Linked DNA regions of Homo sapiens: region 1 is linked to region 2. The links come from fine-mapping of genetic effects on gene expression. Tissue or cell type: monocytes after Pam3CSK4. Region 2 holds a variant in brackets; the other region holds the start of a gene. All regions are shown on one strand. Distances are from middle to middle.

Region 1 (7,530 bases), 230 kb before region 2:
ATTGTTTTCCATGTCTGAACATGCATCATGTTCTCAGATCATGCTGAACCTGGTAGAGTCACCCACATATATTATGTGTTCATGCTCAGTCTTTACTCAGGCACTTGGGAGTGCCCAGCCAGTATCTGTGAATATATGCATGAACACTACTCTGGATTGGGTTTCCCCAGAAGTATACCTTGAGACAAGGAGATGGGTGCAGTTACTTTATTTGGGATCCCAAGAACAAATAAGGAAGTGAGAAAGTAAGGCAAGGAAGGGAGAAGAGGCAAAATCAAAGAGTGACTTAATGAGGGAGTGACTGCTGGGGGCAACTGGACTCATTCCTACTGGGGAATTCCTCTGAGGAACTGCCTTGAGAGCATTTGAGAATTGATCTTCCTTAGGGAAGGGGAGGCTGACACATTCATCCACTGTTTGGTTAAGGACTGACCCAGGGCTGTTGGAAACTTCCAGGCTAGGCAAGATCCCACAGCCCTTGAGAAAGCCTCCTGGTAGAGAGGAGAAAGGGGGCCTGCTTTGGATAGACAGTTTCTCTGTACAGAGGGCAGCTCATTGCAGCTGCCGGTGAGCTCAGAGGTGGGCCCAGGGGACATGGAGCCGAGCATCACTAACACTCACGCTTGTTACTCTGGTTGGCAGGCCTGTGCCCCCTTATCTAGCTACATAGGTCCCATCTCCTCCTTGAAAGTTCGTTCAAGAGCACCCACTTCTTGGAAGCATTTTCCAACTTATCTCCACCCTACTCCACCTTCAATGTTCTGAATAGCCCTGGATACCCTGGACATGACTCTATAAGAGTACTTATCTCTCTGCTTACTAGATAGAGCTTTCCTGTCTTTCTTAGCAAGAATAGTTCTTTTTCATCATTGCACATGTAGGGCCCAGATTTTTTTAGCACATTACAGGCACTTAACCGATGCCTTAAAATGAATTCAAGTTCACCTTGCTCAGGGACCCACTCAGAGCAAGTGGTCAACAAATGTGGACTCCTTTCCTCCATCTGATTTAGGAGAACAGTCATCTAGTGAGTATACAATATGACAAATATATTCTTTAAACAGAAATGCCAAGGAAGCACAAAGGAGGGAGTAATTAACTGGGACTATACCAATGAGACTATAGTTACCTCATTTGACAGTCTTAATTACTTAGGTTTTTTTTTTTTTTTTTTTTTTTTTTTTTTTTGAGACGGAGTCTCACTCTGTCACCCTGTCTGGGATGCAATGGCATGATCTCAGCTCACTGCAACCTCTGCCTCCCGGGTTCAAGCGATTCTCCTGCCTCAGCCTCTGGAGAAGCTGGGATTACAGGTGCCCACCACCACGCCCGGCAATTTTTTGTATTTTTAGTAGACACGGGGTTTCACCATGTTGGCCAGACTGGTCTCAAACTCCTGACCTTAGGTGATCTACCTGCTCGGCCTCCCAAAGTGCTGGGATTACAGGCGTGAGCCACCGCGCCTGGCCTACTTATAGTTTTAGTTTTCCAGAAGCACTAATAGAGCCATCTGGTGCTCCTTCCACCGCACTGGGCGTTCCCTTTTGAATCTCTCCACCAAAGAGGAAGCCACAGGGAGCTGCGGGACCGAGTGAACCACCCTACCTCAGGCAGAGGTCCCATCTGCAACTCTAGTTTGTTTGCTTCTTTCATTTATTCAACACGTGTTTATCGATGGTCTCATATGGGCCAGCACTGTTCTAAGGAAACAGGCAAAGGTACTGCTGTAATGCAGTTTACCCATGCAGTGGGGAGAGTGGGGGGCAGATAAAAAATAAGCAACCAATCATGTAGGCTACATTAAACAGTGACAAGGGCTATGAAGCAATCAAACAGGATGCGCTATGTTTGGGAGAGGTGGAGGTGGGGTGTAGGTGCCAGAGACAAGCAGATCACATGGTTGGGGAAAACCTATCTGCGGAGCTGACTTCTGGGCTGTGAGCTGCGTGCCAAGAACAGCCATACAAGGGTTCTTCCAGGCAGAGGGGACGGCAGCTACAGTGGGCCTGGAGCAGGACCCTGGGACTCCTGGTGCCCAGCTCAGAGCTGTCCTACTGCTTCTGGCCACGGAGAGAGAATTGCAGAAAAGGAACAATGCTGGGTCTAAAACTGGTATCTGTTCCTTACTTGGAGTAAACGAGCTGGTACCCAACTTTCAGTTCCCAGCAGGTTCATTTCAGGCTTCTGTTTTCGCTCATGAGCATGTTGTTCCCTCTTCAAAGTCTGATTGGGTTTCAAAGGAATCTGAAACACTTACAGCAAAACCACCAAGCTGCATCCTCCAGGTAGACACCCCCGAAATGTGGCATTTCCGTGGGAAACCACAATGAATCACTCATTGGCTGCCCGACCTCTCTGCCCAGTCAGAGATTGATTTTGGTTTTCCCAAACTTTGTAAATCCGCTCCAGACTGTTTAACAACCCCCACTCCCCACTACACCCAGACTCTCAGATTAGGAGCAAAATCCCAAATTTTGTGAGGTTTTCTGTTTCGGATTTCACCAGAAGGGGGTCTGCCACAGCCACTAACCATTTCCTCTGCAGAGAGCCGTTTCTGAAATGCTGCAAAGAAAAACAATCACCCAATGATTAGGAGGGAAATTAAGTTCTAAAGAAAGACTACTGTCTCTGACTTTGAAAGTAGACATAGATATGCACAATATACATCCCACAAATTAAAATCCTCCTTTCTCTGATGTCTTTTAATGGTAATAATAAGGACAAGCATGGCTATCATTTATTTGGGCGTTTCCAATGTGCCAGTCCCTGTCTAAACATTCAGCTTCCAGATCAAACCTATGAGGGTGGAATTAACATCCATTTCATAAATGGAAACTGAGGCTCAGGAAAGTTGAGCGAGTTACTCAAGGTAACATGAGTAGAAAAAAGGCCATATTCCAACCGGACACAGAGCCTGCAGCCCACACAATTACTCTCCATACTGTTCCTATACTATCCTGACTGGGAAGGTCCTGTTCCCTTGGCACTGGGCAAAAATAAAATTATAAGAGCAGAGAGGAAGTGGTGAAAGGGGGCAGCCTGGTGAAATCATTCCTTTACTGAAAATAGGGGTAACGGCCAGGACAGTGCAGGTCCATCCTCTGCAGATGGAAGACAGGCACGTCCTTTGCCGCTGTCCCGGCCTTAGAAAGGCACCTTCCGCGTCCAGGGTTTTCTGTGGATAAATCCCACCCCTTCCACCTCAGGCGGGGAGGAGGCCGGCCGGCCGGGGCATGGGGCGGAAGGCGAAGGACGCCCGACCCCGGCCGAGGTCTGGGGCCCCTCCCACGCCCCCCTCGTGGCTGCCGGCGGGCCAAGGGTTAAGCGAGGCGGGAGCCCCCGGCGCGGAGCGGCTCGGGGCCGGGAATGCTTAGTCAGGATTCCGATTTCCTGTCGAAGTGTTTGGATTTCCTGAAACCCGCGCCCTCCGCCGCCGAGCGGGATCGTGCGAGCCGCTCGCGTCGCCGCGGCCTCCTCCCCCTCGGCACATGGTCGCCCGCCCCTTCCTGCGCCGCGCTCGGCTCCCGCGCCTCGCCTGGCCTGGCCGCTGCCGCGGGCGAGCACTGTGCGCTGGGCAGCCCCGGGCCCGCGCCTCCCGCCCAGCCGGCGCTTCCCGGTCGCAGTTCGCTTTCCCACCCGAGAGCCGCGAGCGCCCGGCCGAACCCGCGATGGAATAATGCCCAGCGGCCCGCCAGGTCCCGGTGAGTTGCGGGGCGCTCGGGCGCGCTCGGCGGGGCCGGGCGGAGTCGCCCACAGTCGCGGGCGCCCCCTGCCCAGTCTCTCGCGCGAAGAAGGGCGCCGGGACGGGGCGCGGGGCGGGCTCCCGGCTCCTCTCGCAGCGGGGTGTCCTTCTCCGCGGGGAGGGCGCCGGCCCTGGGCTGGGGCGTGTGCGGGACGCGCGGCCAGGCTCTGCGGGGCCGGGCGAGGCCGCCCGGTGGGGGGGGGAGGTCTCCTCGCCTCCAGCTCGGGAGAGGGGGCCCCTGCAGTGGGGCCGGGGACGGGGCCCGCCCTGGGGGGTTTCGCGTCCCCCTCCGGGGGAGGGCCCGGGACGACGTGCTTGGCGGCCCGGACCCCGCCGATGGGGCGCCCTCCCGGCATTGTCTCTGGTGCAGCCGAGGAAAGTTCCCCGCGGCCCCCGGCCCCTACCCGGACCCGGCGCTGCTTGGCAGGCCCCAGGCCACTTGCCTAAAGCAAAAGAAGAGAAACGAAAGGGAAGGGGGTGGGGGGAGTCCTACTTGGAGCTTGGGGTTGGCTCCTGGGCGGACCGTGAAGTGGCTTGTGTTTTCTGCTTGTACCATTTTGGGACCTGCTGCGTTTTCTGAGAGCGACATGAAGTTTCAAAGAAAAAAGAAACTTGCCGGTGTCCGGTTTTCTGCGGTTTGATACATCCCAAGAGGTTCATCTTGGGCACTTCTAAAGCAGTTTCCTTTAATAATGTGGTTTTCCAGTAGCTCAGGGAGAAGGATGGTCAACTGCAGACCATCATCGTTAACTTGACCTCAACTTTACCTGTACTCGTCAGGAAAGCAAAAGAACTTTCTCTCGCATTTTCCCCTGTCTACTCTGTTAGGTTATCTTGGCGTGATTGATTCTGGGATGACATCAGGACCTGGATTGCTGAGTAATGTTTTGGGATTGTAAAAGCTTATCAGTTTTTAGGCCAGGGTTATCTGTATTGCAACCTTCATCCCAAAGCCTTTCTGTTTTGCAATTGTAGCGCGGCCAGATAGCTTTAAGAAAATGCGGGTCTTCTGGAAACACCCAGTGAACAGTTTGGAAAGAAAAAGATCTTTGAGAACAACTGATTCACCCCCTTCAGAGAAGGCCCAGAAAGGTGACCTGACTTGCCCAAGATCACATGGCCAGGAGTAGTTTCCACTTCTTCAGGCTCAGTCCCATGCCCCTTCTGTGTTAGATTTTGATCTGTTAGCCATGAAACAGATTTGGAAACGTCTTCTTTGCGTCACAGCCTTCACCACTTTAGTGCCTTCTCTTCTGTCCTGTTAATGCTGCTATTTTTGAGATATGCACTTATTTCAAACTGCATATTTTGAGATAGGGAGTTAAAAAAAACAAAAATCACCTAACGCCACTAAGTGGATTTGGAGATTCAGCTACCAAATGGATTTGAAGTATAAAATGAGTGGCTTATTATACGGGGAATTACTTTCCCTATCCCATTCTTTTGTGCAAAATAGAAACTCCCAGGTCCAAAAAAGGGCAGTATCTTAGCACATAATGTACCCTCTGATGTTCTCTAGACTTGATTTTCAGCCCTCCTGTTTCTTGTGAGCTAAGCAGCCCATCTATTTTTCTCATGAGAGCTCTGAATGGCTGGTTTTTCATTTTTAGTATGTGATAATGTTGGAGAGAAAGGACTTTTCGCAAGCTTGCCATTTGGTGAGGGAAATTGAAATTCTCTACACCTCCCCAGTCCTCACCAGCCACAGCGAGCCAGATTTTCAAAATCAGTGCAAGCCTGGCAGGCCCAAAGATGAATGTGTGCATTCAGATTGAGCCCTCCCTTGTGAAGACTCACGTCCCAGCTGGCATCTCCATGCTGCACCTAGGTGACTGAAGTCTAGAGGAAAGAAGGGAACCCCAGTTAGCTAGGACAGTGTTGTTCCTGCCATTTCCCCACCTAGGTCTCAGCCGTATTTGGATCCTGCTGCTCGGTTCTCATTTTTCCCTGCCGTTTTTTCACCCAACCACTGCTGTATCTGGCATGGGCTCCGGAAGGTCTTTTCTAGGAGACTGCATGAGTGATCCCCACGTGAGCAATAGTAACAGTCACCCCATTTATTAAGCACTTGCTGTATGCCCTAGACATGTTACCTCCTAAGAAGTCCTAAGGAGGAGCGGAAACTTCTTGGGGAGCCTTGCCCAGAAAGGACAGCACATCTCAGATTTATCTGGAATCGAGTTTTTCTTTCATGCATCCAGTGAAACATTTGCTAAGTGGCTTCCCTGTGGGAGGTGCCAGTCCTGCAAAGATGAATAGGACCCTGTTCTCAAGGCCTTCTATTTCCAGCCTCATCTTTCAATGTCAGCCTCACACTTTCTCTTTTAATTCATCAATTGAACAACCATGCATTGAGCACCTGCGCCATGCTAAGCCCTGTGTGGAGTCCTGATGATACAGTGGTGGACGAAATAGACCTGGCACTGCCCTTCTGGAGCTTGCATTCCTCTGGAGGAGATGAGCAACAAGGAAGAAGCAGAAGAAACAACCTCTAACAGATGAGTGATTCCTTGTTATCAAGGAAACAAACCTGGGACCAAAGTAGGGGCTGGTGGCACAAGTTGGTCCTAGTTTTGGAAGGGAAAGCCTTTCTGAGATTGGAAAATGGAGAAGGAACTGGCCAGGCAGAGAGATTGCAGGGGAGGGCCTTCCAGGCAGAGGGATGGGAATGTGCAAAGTTGACTATGCACAAAAGAGCTTGGTGTATTCCAAGGAGTGAGGGAAGGCAGGGCTAGAGTGTAAGGGAGAGATGGGGGGAATGGCGCAAGGTGAGGTTTGAGAGGGAAGCAGGGACGAGATCACACAGCCGATTCTAAGCCATGCTGGGGAGAGTCCCTCCACCCAGTACAAAGGGAAGCTTTGGTGAGTTTAAGCTCAGCAGTGATATCTGATTGACTCTTTTTTTTTTTTTTTTGACAGAGTCTAGGTCTGTTGCCCAGTCTGGAGTGCAGTGGCATGATCTCAGCTCACTGCAACCTCTGCCTCCTGGGTTCAGGTGATTCTCCTGCCTCAGCCTCCTGAGTAGCTGGGATGATAGGCATGCACCACCACACCTGGCTAATTTTTATATTTTTAGTAGAGACGGGGTTTCGCCGTGTTGATCAGGATGGTCTCAAACTCCTGACCTCAGGTGAGCGACCATGGCCAGCCTGATGGACATTTTTGAGATTGCTTTGACTGCTTTTATGAAAAGTGGATGGATCATAGGGGGCAAAGTGTAGAAGCAGGAAGACCACTTAGGAGGAAAGAGGATGGTGGCTTAGAACTGGACAGCAGCAATGGAGGTAGAGAGAAGTGGGAGGAGCCTACTTAGATCTTGGAGATAGCATTGATGAGATCTGGTGATAGATTACATTGGAATGAGGCAAGGGAAAGGACTCAAGGGTGACTCCTGGGGTTCTGGCTTGAACAGCTGGGTGTATGGTGGCGTTGTTGTGGGAGACAGGAAGACTAGGAGGATTATGCTCATGGAGAAAATCAAGTTCTGTATCAGCCATCCTAAATTTGAGATGTCTAGGAGGCATCCTGTGGAGATTTCAGGCAGGCAGGAGGCCTGGACCTCCGAGGAGACTTACAGGCTAGAGACATTATTACCAGCCTGCTGTGGAGCTGCCAGAGTGCTTGCCGGCACATGCCCTGTGTTTCATTTCCCTGAGTGTCTGCTTACGTTCTTCCCCCTGCGGGGGATGCTCTTCCTCTCTCCCAGGCTAATTGCTACTCATCTTTAAAAAGCACCTGTGTCTTTATCTCCTCGAAGATGCTTTTAACTCCCTCCCCTACTCTTAAGT
Region 2 (7,530 bases):
TTAGAATTATCTTGCAGGCCAGGCGTGGTGGCTTACACCTGTAAATCCTAGCACTTTGGGTGGCCAATGTGGGAGGAACACATGAGCCCAGGAGTTGGAGACGAGCCTGGGCAACATGGCAAGACCCCATCTCTACAAAAAATTAAAAATTAGCCGGTCATGATGGCATGTGCCTGTAGTCCCAGCTACTTCAGAGGCTGAGTTGGGAGGATTACTTGAGCCCAGTAGGTTGAGGCTGCAGTGAGCCATGTTCATGCCACTGCACTCCACGCAGGTCTACAATAGCAAGACCTTGTCTCAACATCAGCAACAAAACAATTATCTTGCCTTCTGCAACAATGTCGTGGATGCCAGAAGTTTCTTAGGAATATTGGGAAAGAATGTGTCTTCTTAACGGATGGATCACATTTCTCTGTTCTTTTCTTTTATCCAGTCTTCTTTTCTCACCTACTTACCCTAACTCCCACTGTACTATGTGCCCAAAAGTCTTCTAGCACTCGCATGTAGTAAAGATCTTAAAACAGAGCTGCATCCTGCTCTCTGAAACCTCTTGAAGTGAGTGGGCCATTTTCTGCCTTATCAGTCCGTCTCCTTCAGAAACACTCATTCCTGTGGCAGTGTCCCACCACCGCAGCCTTCTTTCCCTCCTCTTCCCTATACCTCTGAACTGACATTCCCCTCAGATGGCTTACTGTACTCTGCAGTGTGTTCCTCCCTTCTGCCGTTGCCCTTGCTATTTCCTCCACCAGAATCATGGTTCTTTGCTGTCTCACTCTCTGTGCCTGTTGAAAGTCTGCTGGGTAAACCCTTAATTTTGTACACAAGTGTGTGTGTGTTAGGGGACATGTGTGTGATCTTTCTAGTATTGACTTTACTAACTTTATAATACAGTATGTTAAAAAAAAAAAAGACATGTGAGACCTGTGTTTTTATTCTGTTTGATATTACAGACATCGCTCTGTATTGTAAGTAGTCATGGATATATAGCGGTAACAGTAGCTGACATTTTGGGGCACATGCCACATGCCAGACACTATTTTAAGCACCTTACATTTAATTTTCTATCATTCTATTTTCATAGGATTATGATTATTATTGTTATTATTACCCCAAGATATATCTTACTAAACTGTTATATTTTTATGCTAGGAAATTATATATATACACATATATATGTGAGACATGTATATATATGTGAGACATATATGCCAGTATATACACACATACATACATACATATGCATATATATATATATATGGAAAGAGACTACATGGTTATTCAGCTGTGGAATTAGCAAAACATACAGGACCCATGACCTAGCCTATACTTATCTAGTCTTCTGCCTCACTCACGTCACATTTCATGTTTCATCTACCTAATAAGCATAATTCTTCCCTTGCAGAACTAGTGGGGGTGAAATATGAGATTGTAGAAAGCATAAGGATTTGGGTCACAGAAGGTTCTGAGCTTCTCCCAACACCTTCTTCCTATGGCCTGTCTCTGCCTTAGCCTTTAGCCAACTCCATCTTATTCTTTAATGAGTCTGTCATCACAGATAGATGGAGAGCTTCTTGTAATTCTTTCTAACCTTTGCATGAAATTTCAATTCAGGATAATGGCTGTGTCTAGGGAGGGAAGGAAGGAGATCGGAATTGGGTAGAGGGACAGGAGTAGGGGAATAGGGAATCATTCTTTAATATTTTATTTATTAAGCTGGGTGGCGCATACATGTATATTCGATTAACTAATTATATTTTTCACTTGAAATATTTGATAGTCTCAAGAAAGCAGCCTATATACCTATTTTTACTACTGAGGTGCTTCCCTTGGGAGCAGGTAAAATGAACACACAGCTGAATTCTTTTTTCATAGGTCTCCAAAATCAGAAAAGGATATCAGATGAGGTAGGAGTCTTGGTGGTAAGGTGGGACCTCTTTGGCCTCAGACAGAAGGTATCAGGAGTAGCTCCAGCACATGAGGGAGATGAAACCTGTGTGTCTTCTCGGTTGAGCTCGTGTGGCCTTTCTTTTCTGTTTTTCTGAGCCGCTCCTCTGAGTGAACTTGGATAGTAACCAGAGCTGCATTTTTTAATATCTCAGCCTGAGATGCTGACAACCACTGCAGGCACCATGAATTTTTAATGTGGTGGTGATTAGAAGGCTGGCTAGGGCCTCATTTCGTTTCATTGGACTGCTGTGACACTTGTTTCCTTCATGGTATTTAGACTTCCTGGGTTATTTCCCAATCCAGACTCATGTTCTGTTTCATGAGTGCCCATTGCACCCATGCACTTATTGAGGTGTGTTTGAAAGCAGAATTTAAAAATTTGATCTCAGTTATTGAACATCCTACGCTATTTCAGAAAGGGATGCTTCTTAAATTCCTGAAAAGGAATTCAATAAATCCAGGTCAACAAATATTAACCAAGCCGCAGCTTTGAAAGTCCAGCTCACTGAAAGAACTACAGCAGTGTCCATTGGGTAGGGATGCAGAAGTGAACCATAGGTAATCCCTGCCTCTTGCGGTCTGGTGGTAGGAAAAGATCTGTGTGTGTGTGTGTGTGTGTGTACATATATACACACATATATACACATATATACACATATAATATACATATATACGTGTGTATATATACGTGTATATATACATATATACACATATAGGATGTGGTAGAAAATACTGCAGTAGAGGTACAGAGAATTGTGGGCAAGGAAGGATTGTTTCCAACTAAAGGAAGACTTTATAAAGAAAAGTAATTTATTGTAAAGCCTTTAAAAATATGACCAAAAAAAACCAAAAAAAAAGATATGACTTTGATAAATATCTATTTATTCATTTATTCATTATGTAAATACTATGCATCTACTGTGGGCCTCCCTACAAATTCATGCTTCTCTGTGCGCCACAACAGAGGAGGGAGGTGGAGAGTTGAGTACAGGCATCTGAAATGCTTCCAAGAGAACGTGGTATGCATCACTTCCACTCACATGGCCTTGGATGGTGCATGCCATATTTCCTGCCTTACTTTGAGAGTATGGGGAAATGCAGTACTCCTTTCTGTAACCCTGCAAGGATTGGGAACTTGGATATCCATGGCAAGTGGTAATGTCTGCCACAAGAGTCACAAGATCTGATGCACAGTATAACAGTGTTGCATTGGATGCTGTGTTGGTACCAGACTGCTGGGAGGCAAAAGTAGCAACAGAGAGACCATTTCAGAAGCAGAGTGTATTTGCCATTGCCACAGATAGGGGACTGTGAGAAAAAGAATGGGAAGAAGATCAAGAGTTTGGTTTTAGACATGTTAAGATTCAACATAGTTAGTGGAGATACTGAATAGGTAGTTGAATATATGTCTGTATTACAGAGGGTGGGTTTTTCTGGGCTGGGGATATCAATTTAGGAGTTATCAGCTGATAGAAAGTATTTAAAGCCGTAAGACTGAGATCCCAAGAGAGTAAGCAAAAATAGAGAAGAAAGGTCCAAGACTGAGGGGCCTCAACATGATGAGGTCAGAGAGATGAAGAACCAGCAAAGACAATGGAGAGGACCAGTCGTGAGGCAAGAGGACACTCAAGAAAGTGTGATATCCTGGAAGCCAGACAAAGAACATGTTTCAAGGCAGTGGGGGTTATTGTTTATGCAGTATTTGCTCTACTGAGAAACTTTTATATACTTTATGTCAGCTCATCAATACCACAATTCTGTAAGTTAGATATTGGACTCATTTTATGGATTGGAAAACAAAAGCTCAGGGAGGAGAAATTTTCACAAATTAATGTTTCTCATGTGCACCTAATTCATCTGATCCAATTCTGAACATTTTGCAGCAAGAGCTGGACTGTGAAAAGCATTTTACAAATACTATTCCTCAGACCTGGAACTTAGACAAAATTAAAGGAAATGAAGATTAGTTGCAGGGAAAGAAACCTGTTAGGACACATGAATTTTTCTTTTGCAATCCAAGATTGTTTTTCCAAGGAGAATTTTCTACTTTTTCAGGTAATCATAGTTTCTTTCTTCCTTTTCCCTTTCCTTTCCTTTTTCCTTTTCTTTCTTTTCCTTTCCTTTTTCCTTTCCTTTCCTTTTTCCTTTCCTTTCCTTTCCTTTCCTTT[CCTTTCCTTTCCTTTT/T]TCTTTTTCTTTTTCTTTCCCCTTTCCCCTTTCCTTTCTTTCTTTTTTTTTGGAGATAGGGTCTCATTCTATCACCCAGGCTGGGTGCAGTGGCACAAGCACAGCTCACTGTAGCCTCGACTTCCCAGTCTCCAGCAGTCCTCCTGCCTCAGCCTCCCAAGTAGCTGAGACCACAGGTGCATGCCACAATACCCAGCTAATTGTTTTTTGTTGTTGTTGTTGTTGTTGTTTTGAGACAGAGTCTCACTCTGTTGCTCAGGCTGGAGTGCAGTGACGCGGTCTCGGCTCACTGCAAGCTCCGCCTCCCAGGTTCACACCATTCTCCTGCCTCCGCCTCCCGAGTAGCTGGGATTACAGGCACCCGCTACTACACCTGGCTAACTTTTTTGTATTTTTAGTAGAGATGGGGTTTCACCGTGTTAGTCAGGATGGTCTCGATCTCCTGACCTCGTGATCGGCCCGCCTTGGCCTCCCAAAGTGCTGGGATTATAGGCGTGAGCCACCGCTCCCGGCCCTACACCCAGCTAATTGTTAATTTTTTGTAGAGACGGGGTCTCGCCATGTTGCCCAGGCTGGTCTTGAACTCCTGGGCTCAAGCGACCTGCCTACGTTAGCCTCCCAAAGTTCTAGGATTACAGGCGTGAGCCACCATACCCAGTCAATCATAGTTTCTTAATTGCTTGAAAATGTGATGTAATTTGACCCCTCAGCCTATGAGGAATTAGTGGATTAACTGGACTATAAATGAGCTAAATTCTATGAAAGAAAAAGGGAAAGGCGAGGTGCGGTGGCTCACACCTGTAATCCCAGCACTTTTGGAGGCCGAGGTGGGCGGATCACAAGGTCAGGAGTTTGAGACCAGCCTCACCAACTTGGTGAAACCCTGTCTCTACTAAAAATACAAAAAATTAGCCGGGCATGGTGGCATGCATCTTTAATCCCAGCTACTCAAGAGGCTGAGGCAGGAGAATCACTTGATCCTGGGAGGCGGAGGGTGCAGTGAGCCGAGATTGTGCCATTGCACTCCAGCCTGGGAGACAGAGTGAGACTCTGTCTCAAAAAAAAAGAAAAAAAGATAAAAGGGAAAATCTTCCTTAGTAGAGTGAGTTAGAATATTTAGTGTACTCCTAACCTAACCTTTGGGACATGTGCAATAAATAATTGATACAGTTTATGCTTCCATTTTGAGAATTCGTAGTGATCGGTGTTCAAAGTAACTTTTCATTGTGGCAAATAATAGTTCAGACTCCTTTCTTCTTCTTTTTTGTTTTTAGATCATGTACAAAATGAAGAAAACTATGCACAAGTTCTTGATAAGTTTGGGAGTAATTTTTTAAGTCGAGACAACCCCGACCTTGGCACCGCGTTTGTCAAGTTTTCTACTCTTACAAAGGAACTGTCCACACTGCTGAAAAATCTGGTAAGACATTTCATATGTGAGTAAAAAGAATTACAGCCTTTCCAAAATATTACGTCATATAGAGAACATTTCAATAATCCTTCCCCCTCAATCCTTGGTCCTAGGGGTGAGAAAGAAAAAACAAAAAGCTTTTTAGTCCTAGGTAACTTCCACACCTCAACTAAAAAGCTTTTTAGTCGCCTAGGATTTGCTTAAAGAAAATCCCATTGTGAAATTCCTGGAATTTGTACCTTTGGCCCAGCTGATAGAGTAGATTTATCGAAGCTGAGAGAGAAACTGCTTAACCTGAATTCTCTTCCACATCTCTACCATTGATTTTTTTTTAAAGATAACCTTTAGCAACTTTTGCTTTTTAATTGGCTAAAAGAATGATGATTTCTGTGTCGAACATACATTGGAAATACACATTGAAAGTATTATATCTCACTTGTGTGAAGGTGATCATGCATTTTGGTTTCTGATATATAAATAATGAACCTCCCTCAACTCCCCACATCCTTTTAACCCCCAACCAAGAAAAGGGTTTTGAGATTTAAGGAATCTCTGGTTTCCAAAGTAAATGACAGGAAGAATCCCTAACGATCTGAGACACTAGAGGTGCTGGCCCCGGGAGGCAGACCCAGGGATGGGGGTGGTGGAGGAAACTGTTTGCCAGGCAGTCGTGTGTGGGCATCCCCATGTTGTGCTGCAACCCCCTCCCCAGCCCTCATACCATGTGCACACTTAGAAAGGTTCTGGGTAACACCACCTGGACGGATCATTTGGATTTTGTTGGTTTTGGGGGATGAAATTATTTCTCTAAGAGCCACCCAGTGAAATAATTTAATCCTCCTAAGTCCCCAGAGAAAGGAGTACAATGAGGTTGAAAGGTGCCAAAGGAAAACTATTTATATCATGCTTTTCCAAGTTAGCCCTGCCCTGGAGAAGAGGAGCTGTTCCCTCTTCTCTCCCAGTCTCTTGGTATTGTGCTTTTACCTCCTTTAAGGATCCAGAACTCATTCTCAAGATGTCCTTAACCTAGGTCAGTTATTCATGTATCACATAGGCTTCTGTGGCCTTAGGTGATAATTTGTCATAATCCATTAGATACAAAAGGTTAGTTTACAGATGAAGATAACCTATTTGAAAAATGAAAACTACCTTTCTACACTCCATTAACCTATTTGGCCAGTTACAATATTCTTTTTCTCTGTCACAATAAATAAACGTGTGTATGTGTCTGTCTTCCTGACAGTTTTTCTAATTGGCGATGTATGCCATTGAATTAATCTTACACAGCGAATAAGCAAATCTGAAAGAAAATAAATATCGAACATAGAATTATTTATTATTTTCAAAAACTTCGGAAAGGATAATTTTGAACTTTGGCTCTAATGTTTCTGTGCTTTTGGATTTAACAAATCCATGTTTTTGTAAATCTTAGATTATATAAACCTCATTTATTCAGAAGAGCACCCTCGGTTTTCCTTCACTCTGAGCATTGCCTGCACTTTCACTGGAGGCCTTGCTCAAAGTGTGGTGTGGTAGAAAGAGAGGAAGCAAAACAAGACTGACAGTTCACTTTGGTAATAGCTGGTAAAGGACTTGCTTGGGCAGGAAGATCTGTTTTCTCTGAGATGGGTGTTTTCGCATTGATGTCTTGCTTTAGTTTCCAAGGACCAAATGTATTGGCTTAAGTCAAGAGTCATCACCTCCAAGGTTCCTGGACCAATCTCATCTCTACGGTTTGCTACGCTGCAGGTTCCTTTCAACTGTGTGTATATGTGCCATACACACAGCTCAGTGGCCATTCAGGCCAACATTCATCATCTGCGTTTGCTCACCTAATACATTTGTTTGTCTCCATACAAAACCATCTGAGATTTATTGAATGTTTTTGATGAACCTGGCAGTTTGGTGGGTGTGTTATGTAGATTATTTCATTGAAGACATTACAACAATCCTGTGGTTACTGTACCTTTAATCCAGATGAGGAAACTG

Which allele goes with the higher level. Alleles are on the strand shown, and positions count from the first base shown. SD is a standard deviation of normalised expression in the study named.
As copies of CCTTTCCTTTCCTTTT replace T in region 2, the expression in monocytes after Pam3CSK4 of the gene that starts at base 3,487 in region 1 goes down (large effect, 1.4 SD a copy in Quach 2016).

The links. PIP is the estimated chance that this variant, and not a neighbour inherited with it, causes the effect.
Region 1: it holds the start of ASAP1, and the variant in region 2 is fine-mapped to the expression of ASAP1 in monocytes after Pam3CSK4 (Quach 2016, PIP 0.95).

What each region holds. Positions count from the first base shown.
Region 1 is chr8:130,439,631-130,447,160 of GRCh38, reverse strand. ASAP1 (ArfGAP with SH3 domain, ankyrin repeat and PH domain 1) reads left to right here and starts at 3,487. Exons shown (of 30, transcript NM_018482.4): 1 at 3,487-3,701. RefSeq lists silencers at 3,403-3,502, 3,543-3,632, 3,643-3,802, 3,853-3,932.
Region 2 is chr8:130,212,576-130,220,105 of GRCh38, reverse strand. It overlaps ASAP1 (ArfGAP with SH3 domain, ankyrin repeat and PH domain 1), which reads left to right. Exons shown (of 30, transcript NM_018482.4): 5 at 5,405-5,550. Among named protein-coding and RNA genes, the nearest start is that of ASAP1-IT1, 80 kb to the left of the region's middle. The variant CCTTTCCTTTCCTTTT/T (reference allele first, on the strand shown) is at 4,116.